Regions from separate parts of the Homo sapiens genome. Here region 2 is linked to region 1. A link means that fine-mapping ties the variant in region 1 to the expression of a gene that starts in the linked region. Tissue or cell type: whole blood. Region 1 holds a variant in brackets; the other region holds the start of a gene. All regions are shown on one strand. Distances are from middle to middle.

Region 1 (4,000 bases):
TGTATCCTTTATAATAAACCAGTAAACATTTCTCTGAGTTCTGTGAGTGGTTCCAGCAAATTAATTGAACCCAAAGAGGGCTTCATGGGAACCCCAACATGAAGCCTATCAACTGGTGTGCGTCGGGGGGCAGTCTTGTGACTGAGCACTTAAATGGATCTGACACTATCTGACATAATTTCCAGGTAGATAGTGTTAGAATTGATTTGGAGGACACCTAGCTGATACCTACTGCAGAATTAATTGGTCGCTTGGTGGTGGGGAGAAATCTCCACACATTTGGTCACTAGAAGTCTTCTGTGGTGATGATTGTTGTTGTAGTGGTGTGAGAGCAGAGGAAAAACATGGTTTTAGAGTTTTTCCAAAAGAGAGTGAGAGAGCAAGAGAGAATACATCATGTGATTCCATTTATATTAAAAGTCTAGAAAATACAAACCAATCCTTAATGACAGAAAGCAGCTTAGTGCTTTTCTAGGGATAGGATTAGGGGCAGAGAGAGGAGAGAAGGACTTTAAAGCGGCATAAGAAAAACTTTCAGGGGTGACACATGATCATTATCTTGATTTTTATTAGTTTTATATAAATAGTATACAATCAAACCTGAATAAAGGTGGGAAAAATGTGAAAAAAAATAATCCAAGTAGCTTTTCTTTTCTTTTCTTTTTTTTGGGACAGAGTCTCATGCTCTGTCACCCAGGCTGGAGTGCAGTGGCTCAGTCTTGGCTTACTACAGCCTCTGTCTCCCAGGTTCAAGCAATTCTCCTGCCTCAGCCTCCTGAGTAGCTGAGATTGCTGAGATTGTAGGTGTACCCCACCACACCCAGCTAATTTTTGTATTTTTTACCAAAAAAAAAAAAAAAAGGGCAAAAACCGCGATTACTTTTGCAACAACCAGATAGTAGAAATGGGATTTCACAATGTTGACCGGGCTAGTCTCAAACTCCTGGCCTGAAGTGATCCACCCGCCTCAGCCTCCTAAAGTGATGGGATTACAGGCATGAGCTACTGTGCCTGGCCCCAAGTAACTTTTTTATTTTTTATTTTTTTTGAGACGGAGCCTCACCGTCACCCAGGCTGGAGTGCAGTGGCGTGATCTCGGATCACTGCAACCTCCACCTCCTGGGTTCCAGTGATTATCCTGCCTCAGCCTCCCAAGTAGCTGGGACTGACTATGGGCACCTGCTACCATGCCTGGCTAATTTTTGTATTTTTAGTATATTTTTAGTAGAGACGGGGTTTCACCATGCTGGCCAGGCTGGTCTTGAACTCCTGACCTTGTGATCCGCCTGCTTCGGCCTCCCAAAGTGCTGAGATTACAGGCGTGAGCCACCGCACCTGGCCCCAAGTAACTTTTAATATAGTACTCTTGTCTATATAGCTTCAGTGGGACATATTATATGGAAAAAAGTACTGTAAAAAAGAAAAATCTTAGAGCTGGCCACAATGGCTTACACCTATGATCTTAGCACTTTGGGAGTCCAAGGCAGGAGAATCCCTTGAGCCCAGGAGTTCAAGACTGGCCTGAACAAAATAATGAGACTCCATCACTACAAAAAATTTAAAAATTATCCAGGCATGGTGTACAGCTGTAGTCCAAGCTACTCAGGAGGCTGAGGCAGGAAGACTCATTGAGTCTGGGAGGTCAAGACTGCAGTGAGCTGTGATCATGCCACTGCACTCCAGCCTTGGTGACAGAGTGAGACTCTGTCTCAAAAAAATAAAGTAAAACCTTGATCTTTACTTAGATTTATTGTTTGTAATGAAACTATTTGAAACTATTTTGAGGCTGGGTGCGGTGGCTCACGCCTGTAATCTCAGTACTTTGGGAGGCCAAGGCGCATAGATCACGTGAGGTCAGGAGTCAGAGACAAGCCTGACCAATATCGTGAAACCCTGTCTCTACTAAAAATACAAAAATTAGCCGAGTGTGGTGGCATGCACCTGTAATCCCAGCAATTCGGGTGGCTGGGACAGGAGAATCGCTTGAACCCAGGAGGCGGAGGTTGCAGTGAGCCAAGATCACGCCACTGTACTCCAGCCTCAGTGACAGTGAGACTCCATCTCAAAAAAACAAAAACAAAAACAAAACCCACCTATTTTGAGTATATTGTAGGACTGGGCAAATAAGTAAATGTATTGATGCTGTTGGAAACAAGGTTCTCACTGTGGGGCAGAGGAGATACAGATATGGAATAGAAGAACTGAAATTAAGAGTACTGTTATGAACACGATTTTTAAAATAAATGTATTTCCTAACTAATCACCATGCCTGGCTAATTTTTTTTTTATCTTTAGTAGAAAGGAGGTTTCACCATTTTGGCCAGGCTGGT[C/T]TTGAACTCCTGACCTTGTGATCCACCCGCCTCAGCCTCCCAAAGTGCTGAGATTACAGGCATGAACCACTGCGCCCGGCTTTTTTTTTTTTTTTGAGAGGGAGTCTCGCTATGTCCCCCAGGCTGGAGTGCAATAGCGTGATCTTGGCTCACTGCAACCTCTGCCTCAGGGGTTCAAGGAATTCTCCTGCCTCAGCCTTCTGAGTAGCTGGGGTTACACGCACGTGCCACCACGCCCTGCTAATTTTTGTATTTTTAGTAGAGATGGGGTTTCACCATGTTGGTTAGGCTGGTCTCGAACTTGTGACCTCGTGATCCGCCCACCTCAGCCTCCCAAAGTGCTGGGATTACAGACGTGAGCCACCGCGCCCGGGCTAATTTTTTATATTTTTTAGTAGAGACGGGGTTTCACCATGTTGGCCAGGCTGATCTTGAACTCCCGACATCAGATAATCTGCCCTCCTCGGCCTCCCAAAGTGCTAGGATTACAGGCATTTGCCACCACACCCAGCCAGAGATTCATTCTTGTATGTTTGAATAGCTCATTCCCTTTCATTACTCAGTAGTATTCCACTTTATGGATATGTATCCCAATTTGTTTATCCATTTCATGTGTTTTTTTGTTTTTTTGTTGTTTTTTTTTTCGAGAAAGAGTCTTGCCCTGTCGCCAGGCTGGAGTGCAGTGGTGCGATCTCGGCTTACTGCAACCTCTGCCTCAGCCCCCTGAGTTGCCAGGATTGTAGGCGCCTGCCACCATGCCCAGCTAAGTTTTTGTATTTTTAATAGAGACGCGGTTTCACCATGTTGGCCAGGCTGGTCTTGAACTCCTGACCTCAAGTGATCCGCCTGCCTTTGCATCCCAAAATGCTGGGATTAAAGACGTGAGCCACCACACCCAGCTTTGTTTTCTTTCTTATTTTTTTGGCCCAGGGCATTGTTTTTTTATTTTTGTTTTCAATTACAAATAAGACCACTATGAACATTCATGTACAAGTCTTTGTGGGGCATGTGCTTTCATTTTGCTTAGATAATGAATTCCGTCAGACTACTGACTATCCACATCATGGGGAAAAAATGGAATAGGATAAAACTGAGAATAGAACTTAGTGGCACTTTGGTAAAGATCTCCCTTTAGATGAACCATTATCATTCAGTGAATAAGGTTATTCATCTGTCTGTGAATCTACGTGACTACTCTCCAGCCCACAGATCACCATATGATCTATAGGACTATCAGAATAGACTTTGTCAAATGTGTTAGTGGAAATTAATTTCTTGTTAGTTAGGTACCTGGTAGTTAAGAGTCGGCTTGGAGTCGAAGTTGCTTAAAAAGCTGTGTAGCCCCATGAGTATCACTGCCTAAAACAATGGCAAGTCTCAAACAGACCAGGGGGCATTAGGAAAGCAATAACAGTGTGCGAGAGCAGCAGGGGAAAGAGATACATTCATCCAGTCATTCAATAATAATTATTGAGCACCTGCTGTTTGCCAGGCATTGTCGTGGGCATTGGGAATGGGGAACAAAAATGCCTCTCCTCATGGGATTTTCATTTTAGTAGGTAGAGATAAATGGTAAACAAGTATATAAACAATATGTCAGAAGGTATAAGTGTTATGAAGAAAGGGAGAGTAGGTAAAGTCTGGGGTGGTGCTTCCTTTTTAGAGACAGA
Region 2 (7,621 bases), 370 kb after region 1:
CAATGCCCAGGTAACAGTGAGGAGCAGCTGGGCGGTGAGGACCACATCTGGATCAAGACTGCTCAGAGGCCCTTGCAGTGTGCTTGACCAAACGCTGTCAAGTTCAGGGCCCAGCCTGGCTGGGTCCTCCAGATCCCACCGCCCCCACCCCTGGAGTGGGGAGGGGCTACATGTTATAGGAACCTGGCCCTGTCCCTAATGAGACCTCCCCAAACCCTGCCCAGAAGCCTGCCCCTTAAGTACCTGGCAGGTCAATGGCCACAGCCCGGTAGCCAGCCTGGGCCAGCCTGTGCAGTGTACCCAGGTTCTGCCAGGTCTCGGAGGAGAAGCGAATACCATGCAGCAGCAGTACAGAGAAGCGAGCCTGCCCACTGCCGGGCAGGGCCTCTCGGAAGAAGAGGGCCTGGCCCTGCACCTGGATGGTGCCCTCGCGCTGCTCCACGCTTGCTGCCATGCCTGCTGCTGCTGTGCTGGTGAAGGGCCTGTGGTTCAAAACCACGATGATGAGGGGCCACAGAACACCCTGCCCAGGGTGGCAGTCCCAGAGGAGCAGCAAGGAAGCCTCCAGGAGGTTTCCAGAACTTTAAGAACATGCCTTGGGGTCAGGAGGACATAGGTGTTATTTCTGCCTCTGCCATTTACTTTAGTGTGTAACCTGGGGCCTCAGCTTCTTGATCTGAAATATGGGAACAATAAAGCCAACTTCAAGAATTAGCAATTTAATTAAAAGTTTAAGAAAAATTATCGGCCAGGCATGGTGGCTCACGCCTGTAATCCCAGCACTTTGGGAGGCCGAGGCGGGTGGATCACCTGAGGTCAGGAGTTCAAGACCACCCTGGCCAACATGGTGGAACCCCGTCTCTACTAAAAAGAAAAAAAAATTAGCCAGGTGTGGTGGCACGTGCCTGTAGTCCCAGCTACTCAGCAGGAGAATCGCTTGAACCCGGGAGGCAGAGGTTGCAGTGAGCCGAGATCGTGCCACTGTGCTCCAGCCTGGGTGACAGAGTGAGACTCGGTCACAAAAAAAAAAAAAAAAAAGAGCCAGCTGATGGTCACATGTAACTCTCATTAGGCCAGGCGCGGTGGCACACGCCTGTAATCCCAGCATTTTGGGAGGCCGAGGCGGGCGGATCACCTGAGGTCAGGAGTTCGAGATCTCCCTGATGAACATGCAGAAAGAAACCCCATCTCTACTCAAAATACAAAATTAGCCAGCTGTGGTGGCACACGCCTGTAATCCCAACTACTTGGGAAGCTAAGGCAGTAGAATTGCTTGCACCCAGGAGGCAGAGGTTGCAGTGAGCCGAGAACGCGCCATTGCACTCCAGACTGGGCAACAAGAGAAAAACTCCATCTCAAAAAAACAAAAAACAGAAAAATTATCAGTGGGGGTGCCTGCTGTAAAACCTCAATATGTGGTGGGGCTCCATTACAATTACTGTTCTTATTCTCATCGTTATTATCCTTTTCTATAAATGGGGATAATTCAATAGTACTAGCTCATAGGTGGTTGATAGGATTAAATAAGGCCATGCATGTACCATGCCTAGCACGTAGTAAGGGCTCAGTGCTCAATCAACGGTAAGTTACAGGTCATGAGTTGTCAATGCAGGCCAGAGGGAGCCCAAATTGGGGTAAAAAGCCCATTTTATTTTATTTTATTCTATTTATTTATTTTGGGACAGAGTTTCACTCTTGTTGCCCAGAATGGAGTGCAGTGGCATGATCTCGGCTCACTGCAACCTCCACCTCCTGGGTTCAAGCGATTCTCCTGCCTCAGCCTCCCGAGTAGCTGGGTTTACAGGCGTGCGTCACCATGCCTGGCTAATTTTTTTTTTTTTTTTTTTGAGACGGAGTCTCGCTCTGTCGCCCAGGCTGGAGTGCAATGGCACATCTCCGCTCACTGCAAGCTCCGCCTCCCGGGTTCACGCCATTCTCCTGCCTCAGCCTCCCGGGTAGCTGGGACTACAGGCACGCGCCACCACGCCCGGCTAATTTTTTGTTTTTTTTTTTTTAGTACAGACGGGGTTTCGCCGTGTTAGCCAGGGTGGTCTCGATCTCCTGACCTCGTGATCCGCCCGCCTCAGCCTCCCAAAGTGCTGGGATTACAGGCGTGAGCCACCGTGCACGGCCTAATTTTTATATTTTTAGTAGAAACGGGGTTTCATCATGTTGGCCGAGCTGGTCCGGAACTCCTGACCTCAAGTGATCCACCCACCTTGGCCTCCCAAAGTGCTGGGATTACAGGCGTGAGCCACCGCGCCGGAACTAAAAGCCCATTTTCTTCGGTTTTTTTTTTTTTCTTTTTTTTTTTTTTAAGAGAAGATGTCTCGCTCTGTCGTCCAGGCTGGAGTGCAGTGGCGCAATCATGGATCACTGCAGCCTTGACCTTCCTGGGCTCAAGTGATCCTCCCGGCTCACCCCCAGTAGCTGGAACCACAGGCGCGCTTCCACACCGGAAAGCCCATTTTCTAGAGGCGGAAACCGAAGCGCCCAGTGGGAAAGGCGACCCGCCGGGGATGCGGGGTGCTCAACGCGCTGCCACCTGGGGCCCAACGCGTTGACCTCGCGGTCAGGTTGCTTCCGCGGACTACGGTTCTGGCTCGCTAGCTCTGGAAGGGAGCACCGGGAGGGAATGGTGGCAACTCCCAAGGAGGGGACCCAGGGATCCGAGAAAGGAAGACTTGGGGTAGGTGGGGTTGGATTTTGACTGGAGAGAAGAAAGGGTCAGGAGTGCAGGGCGGGTACCTGGGGAGCTGCGTGGACTCGCGCAGACGGGAAGCAGGCGCGTGCTGGCGGTGACCTGGGGCCGGAGGAGGAACGCTGGGAAGAGGCCGGGCCCCATCCAGCGGGGGCGGGGACTGGGCCGTGCTCCGGGGCGCCCTCTTGTGGCCACAAGCTCGCAGCGTCCATAGACTCCGCTAAACTCGTTCTCACAGCGGCGTCAGTTTCCCAAAGCCTCTCGGTCTCACATGCCCCAAACGCGGTGCTGAGCACGGTTTCGAACTCTTCAGCGACCTGCCCCACATGGACATGGAGCAGTCTGAGGAGGAAAGTTCCTTCGGGATCGCATCCTTGCTGCTGTCTTCCTGCTCCCCATCCCCCTTATCCCCAGCTTGAACTGCCCAGGGCAACTTGTTGGCCTGGCACGGAGTTGAGGCCCGACAGGTTTGAGTGCGAGGCTCCGCCAGTGTCCAGCCAAGTGGCCTTGATCGTTTTCCCAATGCCCCCGAGCCTGTTTCCTGCCAGTAGAGCGGGTCAGATGTTGCCAACCTCTGCAGAGTAGCAATAAGCAGTAAACGCCACGCTCTGCACAGCCTCCCAGTGCTGGGCCTGGTCGCCACGCGGAGCCTTGGGCTGGGACAGGCCAGACGTTGGTAACACATCGCCAACCAGGGCAGGCGCCATGAGTAGACGTGAACGAGCCCAGGGCCAGCCCAGGCTCTGACCGTGGGTGTGCGTCGGGGAGGGGGTGGGGAGGAGTGGGTAGGAGTCAGGAAAGTGGGTCGGCCAAGACCTGGAGCTGCTGCATAACAATATCTGGCATTTACACAACGAGGCCTCTGCTCCGGACACTGTTCTGAGGCTTGACCCGTCCTTAAGAACCTAGGACAACCCTGTGCGGTGGGTTTTATCCTTAACTCCATTATACAGGCCAGAGAACTGAGCCAGGGTGGAGATGTTCCACTGAGAAGAAGCCACATGGCTCTCCGCCGGCTCTCAAGCCAAAAACAGTTCCGAAAATCTGGGCGGGGAGCGGGCCAGAGAGCGCTGGGGCTCTGCCCCCAGCACCCCCTCCACGCAGACGACTCGGTAACTGGGTTGCAGGCCCGCGGCTGCGGAGTGCGCAGGCGCGCCGAGATGGCCGCGCTCCTGGCCGCCTAGAGCCGGAGCGGCCCGCGGAGCTGCGGAGGCAGCCATGGTCGGGGCGCTGTGCGGCTGCTGGTTCCGCCTGGGCGGGGCCCGCCCGCTCATCCCGTTGGGCCCGGTGAGTCTCCCGGGGGAGGGAGGCCGGCCGGTGGCCCAGGGGAGGGCCGTCTTTACCCCGCCCCTTGCCCCGGCGCCCCGGGGCAGAGTCCCGCGGAAGAAGCAGACGCTGGGGCCGCGAATGTGCATGTGCGCGCGTGTAATGTGTGTGCGCGCGCAGGGTCTGCATATGTTCTTGGGGGTCTGGGTGTATGTGTACGCTTGTGTGTCTGCATGGTGTCCGTCAGTGGGTTTCTGCGCGCTTATATTTTTGGGGGGGGGGTGTGTTCGTTGATGTCTGCCTGCTTGTGTCAGCGTTATGTCTTCCGAGTGTATTTCTGTGTGCGTGTGATTTTAAGGGTATGTGTCTACCTGTCTGCGTGTGTGCATTTCTGGGGGTTTGTGTGTGTGTGCGTGTCTGCTTTCCTGTGCATGTGCCTTTCTTGTGTGAATGTGTAGTCTTACGGTTGTGTGTATGACCGTGCTTGAGTATTTCTGAGGATCAGCCTGTGGTTTTCAAAGTGTGCATCTCCATCAGTCTCTCTGGCTTCCTGATGCCTGACTGTGTGCGTGATGTAGAGGGTACCATTACAAGGGATTAATTGCACACGGGCCAGTGTGTGTGCAAAGAGGCTGCATGTACATGCAGGGAATAGCTTGTGCAAAAGAAAAGCGTGTGGGGGCAAGACTCGTATTTGTGCGTGTGTGCACCTGTGTGTCATTGTCAACGCATATTCCAATGACCTAACCCGGGCACAGTTTACCCTGCCCCCCGCAAACCCCCGCAGGCGGCCAGCTGCAGGTCCACTACAATTTCCTAGTACTGCGGGCACCCTCGGTTGCCAAGGCAACAGCCTAAGCCCCGCCCTTCCCGCTTTGGAGAAGCGCGGGGGCGCCCCGAGTGGGCAGCAAGGAAATGTCCCTCGCGCCCGGTGGGAATCTGGACTAACGCCCAGTTAGAGACGCGCGTCTGAGGTTGTTAGTGGTCTGGAAGAAAAGAGGAACGCGCTCTTCCTCCACTAGGTCCTGGTTTTCCAGAAACAGCAGAAAGGCGGCTGCTGCTGTGGCTCACAAGCCCCCCGACCCCGAAGCCTGGGGATGCGGGCTCAGGAAACATCCCCAAAACATCCCGGAGGGATGAATAGGAACCAAGACGGGCCCCCGGCTCCTAGTTCGGGCAGGCGCCCAGTTGGCACTCAATAAAGATGTGCTGGCCCGGCGCGGTGGCTCACGCCTGTAATCCCAGCACTCTGGGAGGCCGAGGCGGGTGAAACACGAGGCCAGCAGTTCGAGAACAGCCTGGCCAACATGGTGAAACCCTGTCTCTACTAAAAAATACAAAAATTAGCCGGGCGCGGTGGCGGGAGCCTGTAATCCCACTATTCGGGAGGCTGAGGCAGGAGAATTGCTTGAACCCGGGAGGCGGAGGTTGCAGTGAGCCGAGATTGTACCACTGCACTCTAGCCTGGGCGACAGAGCAAGACTCCGTCTCAGAAAAATAAAAATAAAATAAAGATGTGTTTGCTGGACTCCTGGAAGGAAGCAGGCGTGCTCATCCTAGGCCCAAGAAATGACAGGGACAGCCCTGATCCAGTCCACGGTATTATCTAAATCTCACAGGAAGCTTAGGAGGGCAGCCACGAGGTTATCCCATTTTACTGACAAACTGAAGACACAAGGTCAGGAAGTGGCAGTCTCAAAGGCCTGTCCTGTTTGAGTCCTGGGTCCTAAGGGCTGTCCTCTGGGGTGGCAGAGACCCCAGATTGGAGGAGTCCACGAAGCAGTCATTTGGCCAGAAGCTGTCTGTGTGTAGGATGGGGAGTAGCAGGCGGCATTCATCTCTCCAACCTCTACACTGTGCTTTTCATTTCTGGGTGTACCATGCTCCTCCCTGGCCCTGCAGCCCCTCACTCCTCAGCATTTTCCTCTATTACAAGACATTCTCTGTGAGCCTCTTCATAACAGCTGGGTTAGACCTTAGTTATAATGCGATTGTAAAACGCGTTCTGATTTTAGCAGTATTAAATGCAGTGAGATTAAAAGAACCATTTCCAAACATGCCCTTAAGTGGGAGGTCCCTTTGCGCGCAGTCTTTCTCCTTTGATAGCCCTCATCACTTTTTCCACCTGCAAGGCTCCAGTTCATCCATCATCTCCCAGCTCCACGGGTTCCTCCTTGGCAAACCGAGTGTGGCCTGGTAGTTAGAAGCCCATTCCTAGGTTCAAACCCCAATTCCCCCACTTGCTACTTGGCACTTTGGGCAAGAGAATGTACCTCTCTGAGCCTCCATTTCCTCACCTATAAGAGACCTATAATCACGTCTGCTCCCCAGCATTCTTGGTGGAAAAGAACCTTGTATGTGAAGTGCCACACTCAGGGCCTGCTGTCATAAGCGCTTGATGAACGGAAGTGGTTTCAGCTGATGCCATGATGGTGGCGGTCACTGAGCATGCTGTGTGCCAGAGAACACCTCAGATGCACCTCCTCACACTGTGAGGTATCTGAGCGCTTGCCCTGGCATGTGGAGTAGTTGAGTGTGAACTCCCAGAACTTTGCCCAGAGCAAGGGAAAGGGCAAGGGCTGGAGCTCTTCCTCTGCTGGGGACTCTGGGTGGGGTTTTGGGATGGGATCCAGGGTCCTTGTAGGGACTCAGTTCCAGCCTCTTTTCCCTCTCCTCTCCCTCTCCAGACTGTGGTACAGACCTCCATGAGCCGGTCCCAGGTAGCCCTGCTGGGCCTGAGTCTGCTGCTCATGCTCCTACTGTATGTGGGGCTGCCAGGCCCCCCTGAGCAGACTTCCTGCCTCTGGGGAGACCCCAATGTCACAGTCCTGGCTGGTCTCACCCCTGGCAACTCGCCCATCTTTTACCGCGAGGTGCTCCCACTCAACCAGGCACACAGGTAGGTGCTGCTCCAAGGGTCTAGTGGAGGGACTAGGCTCAAGGGGAGTCCCTGTGTGGGACCCCCATTATACTCAGGGTGCTCAGGTCCTGGGAGGGCAATGGGAGAAGCCTAGGAATAAAGAAAGGTGGGCTACACCAGGTTCCCAGCAAACACATTCCCCTGTGTGCCTGCAGGGTGGAGGTGGTGCTGCTTCATGGAAAGGCCTTTAACTCTCACACGTGGGAGCAGCTGGGCACACTGCAGCTACTGTCACAGAGGGGCTACCGGGCCGTGGCCCTTGACCTTCCAGGTGAGCACCCCCACCCCTTTGTCTAGGGAAGCCTTAAGTGTGGCTGGGAGGCAACTGGACCCTAGGGTCTGGACAGGCCGTGGCAGGTCACAACATAAGGTGGCACCATGAAAAAGTCTGTGTTTTCATTTTCTACTATGAAAACTACAGTGTGAATTCTAGGTCATGGAGCAAATAAAAACTCTTCACAAGCAGTATACTTTCTTTTTTTTTATTTTATTTATATATATTTTTTGAAACAGAGTCTCGCTCTGTCACCCAGGCTAGAGTACAATGGCACAATCTCGGCTCACTGCAACCTCCGCCTCCCGGGTTCAAGCAATTCTCCTGCCTCCGCTTCCCCAGTAGCTGAGATTACAGGTGACTGCCACCACGCCTGGCTAATTTTTGTATTTTTAGTGGAGATAGGGTTTCACCATGCTGGCCAGGCTGGTCCTGAACTCCCGACCTCAGGTGATTCGCC

Evidence for each region. PIP is the estimated chance that this variant, and not a neighbour inherited with it, causes the effect.
Region 2: ABHD14B starts here. The variant in region 1 is fine-mapped to the expression of ABHD14B in whole blood (INTERVAL, PIP above 0.99).

The regions. Positions count from the first base shown.
Region 1 is chr3:51,598,901-51,602,900 of GRCh38, forward strand. The region is part of intron 3 of RAD54L2 (RAD54 like 2); the gene reads left to right. Among named protein-coding and RNA genes, the nearest start is that of RAD54L2, 62 kb to the left of the region's middle. The variant C/T (reference allele first, on the strand shown) is at 2,331.
Region 2 is chr3:51,971,217-51,978,837 of GRCh38, forward strand. It overlaps ABHD14B (abhydrolase domain containing 14B), which reads right to left and starts at 2,833. Exons shown (of 4, transcript NM_001146314.2): 1 at 2,749-2,833; 2 at 244-482. The coding sequence starts at 454. ABHD14A-ACY1 (ABHD14A-ACY1 readthrough) reads left to right here and starts at 3,848. Exons shown (of 17, transcript NM_001316331.2): 1 at 3,848-3,988; 2 at 6,655-6,866; 3 at 7,043-7,158. The coding sequence starts at 6,731. ABHD14A (abhydrolase domain containing 14A) reads left to right here and starts at 3,848. Exons shown (of 5, transcript NM_015407.5): 1 at 3,848-3,988; 2 at 6,655-6,866; 3 at 7,043-7,158. The coding sequence starts at 3,920. RefSeq lists enhancers at 2,022-2,958, 2,992-3,171 and silencers at 2,402-2,551, 2,772-2,941, 3,772-4,151, 4,757-5,051.